Regions from separate parts of the Homo sapiens genome. Here region 2 is linked to region 1. A link means that fine-mapping ties the variant in region 1 to the expression of a gene that starts in the linked region. Tissue or cell type: whole blood. Region 1 holds a variant in brackets; the other region holds the start of a gene. All regions are shown on one strand. Distances are from middle to middle.

Region 1 (2,763 bases):
TAAGGGCAGCCAGAGAGAAAGGTTGGGTTACCCATAAAGGGAAGCCCATCAGACTAACAGTGGATCTCAGCAGAAACCCAATAAGCTAGAAGAGAGTGGGGGCCCATATTCAAAATTCTTACAGAAAACAATTTTCAACCCAGAATTTCAAATCCAGCCAAACTAAACTTCATAAGTGAAGGAGAAATAAAATCCTTTACAGACAAACAAATGCTGAGAGATTTTGTCACCACCAGGCCTGCCTTATTAGAGCACCTGAAGGAAGCACTAAACATGGAAAGGAACAACCAGTACCAGGCACCGCAAAAACATGACAAATTGTAAAGACCATCAAGGCTAGGAAGAAACTTCATCAACTAACGGGCAAAATAACCATCTAACATCATAATGACAGGATCAAATTCACACATTAACAATATTAACCTTAAATGTAAATGGGCTAAATTCCCCTGTTAAAACACACAGACTGGCAAATTGTATATAGAGTCAAGACCCATCAGTGTGCTCTATTCAGGAGACCCATCTCATGTGCAGAGACACATATTGGCTCAAAATAAGGGGATGGAGGAAGATCTACCAGACAAAAGGAAAGCAAAAAAAAAAAAAAAAAGCAGGGGTTGCAATCCTAGTCTCTGATGAAACAGACTTAAAACCAACAAAGATTAAAAGAGACAAAGAAGGCCATCGCATAGTGGCAAAGGGATCAGTTCAACAAGAAGAGCTAAGTATCCTAAATATATATGCACCCAATACAGGAGCACCCAGATTCATAAAGCAAGTCCTTAGAGACCTACAAAGAGACTTAGACTCCCACATAATAATAATGGGAGACTTTAACACCCAACTGTCAACATTAGACAGATCAACGAGACAGAAAGTTAACAAGGATATCCAGGAATTGAACTCAGCTCTGCGCCAAGCAGACCTAATAGACATCTACAGAACTCTCCACCCCAAATCAACAGAATATACATTTTTTTCAGCACCACACCACACCTATTCCAAAATTGACCACATAGTTGGAAGTAAAGCTCTCCTCAGCAAATGTAAAATAACAGAAATTATAACAAACTGTCTCTCAGACCACAGTGCAATCAAACTAGAACTCAGGGTTAAGAAACTCACTCAAAACCGCTCAACTACATGGAAACTGAACAACCTGCTCCTGAATGAATACTGGGTACAAAATGAAATGAAGGCAGAAATAAAGATGTTCTTTGAAACCAATGAGAACAAAGACACAACATACCGGAATCTCTGGGACACATTCAAAGCAGTGATAAGTGTGATGAGCAGAAATAGGCTTCATTAGAGTAGAGTGACTATTAAAAATTATAACTTTCTAGGAGCTATAAATCAAAGCTTTAAAAAGATGTTTGGATATATTTGAGTATTCAGATCATGAAAATAGAAATTGCCCTGCCTACTGTAAGAAGAGACTGATGGGAAATTATACACCTGGTCAACTTAACCTTTAAACAGACAATGCTGTAAA[A/C]GCTAATGGTTTCTCTGATATTTATTTTAAGTTTTAGTACTGATCTCCTTTTCCAGTGCTGCACACTCCTGTGTTTGGAACTTTAACAGATTTGCAACAAAATCCTATATCCAGCTTCCTATAATTTAATTAAAGAAAAACACATCCAGATAAAGGCTTTGCTATGTTTTATTATTATTATACTTTAAGTTCTGGGGTATATGTGTAGAACATGGAGATTTGTTACATAGGTATTCATGTGTGAAATCTTTGTTATTAACAGAGCAGATAGCATCAGAAATCATGTGACTATTATGATTCTCAGAATATGTCTTAACTTTTAGGGCAAAGTTAACACTGAAAGCTCTAGCTTAAGTGTTGGCACCTTTGTGGGAAAAAAATCACTTTTGAAACTCAGACTTCAATAATTTAAAATTATTGAAGACAATAATTTAAAATTACGTGAAATGTTTTAAATTTGTGAACTCCTAATTACTGTCTTAATGATTCATTTTCTTGAGAGCGATAATTGTATAAAAAGCTATTGCAGCTTTATTTTCAATATGACATGCCTGTAAACCATGGAGTTTTCCCTGTTTGTAAATAGACATTGTAGATAATTGAATGTTTGATTTTAGAAAGGTCATTAGTTTCTTGTTACACATTTTGTTAGTCTGGTTTTTGTTGCTTATTGGGTTCTTGAAAATAGTTGATGCTGTGTTATGTATAACTTTTCTAATAAAAGTTGTGTTATAAGCTGTAAAAAAAATATTTTGGAGCAGAGGAAATGGAAACCACCTAGTAAGATGATAGATTTAGAACCATATATATGTCGAATTGTCACAAATGTAAATGGATTAAATTTTTAACCTAAAAGGTGATTGCCATATTGGATTTTTTAAAATTTAACTATATGCTACTTATTAAGAGCACATGTGGAATAAAAATGGTCAAAAATAGAAGATGGAAAAAAAAATTTTACAGCACTAACATAATGAAAGTTACTGTATCTATTTTAATATCAGGAGAAAAATTAAAGCCAAAGGCATTACTAAATTTAAAGAAAGTGACTCCACAATGATAAAAAAATTAATTTGCCATGTACAAGTAATAATTATAACATTGTATATACCTCATCATGGCTTAAATATACAGGTATCTCTTTCTATAAGAAGCTTTAATATCCAAATATTTGCTAAATTAATTTAAAAAATTGTTGTGCCAAATTTCTATTCAAGGGGGAAAAATGTGTTAGAATCTACATATGCATCACAGTTACAACTATTCAA
Region 2 (2,763 bases), 24 kb after region 1:
ATGGCATATTATTCCACCATAAAAAAGAATAAAATCCTGCCATTTGCAACAGCACAGATGGAACCAGAGGACATCGTGTTAAGTGAAATGAGCCAGGCACAGAAAGACAAACATTGCATATTCTGACTCATATGTGGGAGTTAAAAAAATTGATCTCATGGAGGTAGTGAATAGAATGGTGGTTACCAGAGGCCAGGAAGGTTAACTGGGAAGAGAAGATAGAGAAGGGTTGTTTCGTACCTACAAAAATACAATTAGCTAGAAGAAATAAAATCTAGTGTCCCTTAGCACAGCAGGATAACTGTAGTTAACTTTTTTTTTTTTTTGACATGGAGTCTCACTCTGTCACCCAGGCTGAAGCACAATGAGGCAATCTTGGCACCCTGCAACCTCCACCTCCTGGGTTCAAGTGATTCTCCTGCCTCAGCCTCCTGAGTGGCTAGGATTACAGGTGCATGCCACCATGCCCAGCTAAGTTTTGTCTTTTTATTAGAGACGGGATTTCACCATGTTGGCCAGGCTGGTCTCTAACTCCTGACCTCAAGTGATCCACCCACCTCAGCCTCCCAAAGTGCTGAGATTACAGGTGTGAGCCACTGAGCCTAACCCAACAATAATTTATTGCATATGTCAAAATAGCTAGAAGAGTAGATTTGGAATGTTCCAAACACAAAGACATGATAAATATTTGAGGTGATGGATAATGTAATTTTCCAGACTTTACCATTACGCATCATATTCTTGTGTCAAAATATGACATGGAGCCCATAAACATGCACAACTATTTTGTATCCATAAAAAATTTTAATAAAAATTTTTTTAAAACATTATTGATGGACATGCAAAGGGTTGAAGCTAAAGTCAAATTTTCATGCATTAAAAATGGGAAGCTTTTCTCTTACAAAAAAATTAGAAAAGCAAGTACAAAAAAACTTAGGGTAATTGGAAAGAGTACTGCTTCCTGGATTTCAAAATTAGTCAAAAGACTTTGAAGAGCAGACATCCAATAATCAGTTATTTCCCTGTTTACCTTCTATCATGTAAATCTTTTCTGTCTCCCTAAACTATCAATAAAATCTGGTACAAACCTCCCAAAAAATATTTGCTTTCTTATTCTTTCAAGTGCTTATGGCTCTGGCTCTGAAGAATTACTCTTTCTTTCAAATTCCTTTGAGTCTACTATATTGGTCCAATCACTAGCTCTTCAATCTGTTCTTTGGCTACTTCTTCTCTCCAGGTGATCTCATTTCACCATACACTTCCACTTTCCTCTGAAACTGAGGAAATACTCACCTGTACTTTGAGGTTGCTGCTCTTGCATCATTATGCAGGCTCCCTGTGTTGAGAAGGTCCAGGAACCTTTTGTACCTCTCTCCCTAAAGATGTTGCCCAGAGACTCAGCTTCATTTAAAGAAGCTAGAGCTCAGGGACAAACTGCTACACACTCTTATAGGACTAAGAGACTTCCAACATTAAGTGTACCTCAAAAGAAGAAGTCACAATTACAACTAAAGTTTCCAGTGATTTCGATACGTGGGGTTAAAAAAAACAAAAGAGGAATTGAGAAACATTGAAAACCATTCATGAGAACTTTGACAAGAATACTTAGATCATTTCTTCAGTTTCTAACATAAAATTTCTCTGTCTGATTCCTATTCATTCTGGCATGCAAAATAGAAAATTTTTTATCTCCTAAAAGACATCTATTTAGAGAACTTGGTTAAATTAAGTGCTCCCTAACTAACCTTTACATTGGCTGCTTATTTTATGCAAGCCTTAATCCATGTGTTGAACAGTGTCCTAGGTAGTAAGCAAAAGTTTGATTGGATGGATATGGTTTAGATATGAAGGGTAACATAGTAAATAACAAAACCCATGAACATTGTTAAGGAATGTGACTGCAAAATGAAACATTCTGAAATCAGTCTGCAAAGGTGATGAAACATTCTTACTGCATCCAGACTAATATTGGGCAGATGTCAGTGATATTTTGTAATCTCCCTGATTAGGCAAAAGGGAGCCTGAAGTGATATAAAATCAGAAACAGGCTTCATGAATTTTATATTGTAGCACAGAAAATATATGATGTTTTCTTGTCCTCATAGATTCTTAGTAGAGACACTGTCCTGAAAACAAAAGGCAGAGAAACAAGAGAAAAAGCAGCAGTTTATCAATGTGTGTTATACCCATCACTCAGGAGAGAACTCAGTTCAAATGTATTTATCTCTTTCATGGCAGTGGCTTACAGGCCTTGCTTAAATAGTATGTTAACAAACAGCCATAAATCTATGGAGTGCTGAGAACGAAAAAAAAAAAAAACTGTTATTTGAGGAATGTGAGTGCCTTGAAACTATCAAGTCCAGAGTGGACTCATGAGAGAGATATGACAGGAGTCATGCCTCACTGCCACCTTGCACGAAATTTACCTCTTGAAGCCATTTGCTATGTAGGTTCTAGACTAACTGAACCCTAAAATTTAACAGTATACAGCTAATTACTAATCAATGTGGTTTCTGTAAACCAATGATAATTTACTGATGAGTAACTTTTTAATTCACTCCCTCTCCTGATTCATTCTTTTTTTAATTTTTATTTTTCCATAAGTTATTGAGGTACAGGTGGTATTTGGTTACATGAGTAAGGTTTTTAGTGGTGATTTGTGAGATTTTTGTGCACCCATCACCCAAGCAGCATACCCTGCACCATATTTGTAATATTTTATCCCTCATCCCCCTCCCACTCTTCCCCCCAAGTCCCCAAAGT

What was found. PIP is the estimated chance that this variant, and not a neighbour inherited with it, causes the effect.
Region 2: it holds the start of CLEC6A, and the variant in region 1 is the best candidate, but not a certain one, in a credible set for the expression of CLEC6A in whole blood (INTERVAL, PIP 0.86).

The regions. Positions count from the first base shown.
Region 1 is chr12:8,478,663-8,481,425 of GRCh38, reverse strand. No RefSeq gene overlaps it. Among named protein-coding and RNA genes, the nearest start is that of CLEC6A, 24 kb to the right of the region's middle. The variant A/C (reference allele first, on the strand shown) is at 1,496.
Region 2 is chr12:8,454,673-8,457,435 of GRCh38, reverse strand. CLEC6A (C-type lectin domain containing 6A) reads right to left here and starts at 1,474. Exons shown (of 6, transcript NM_001007033.2): 1 at 1,294-1,474. The coding sequence starts at 1,324.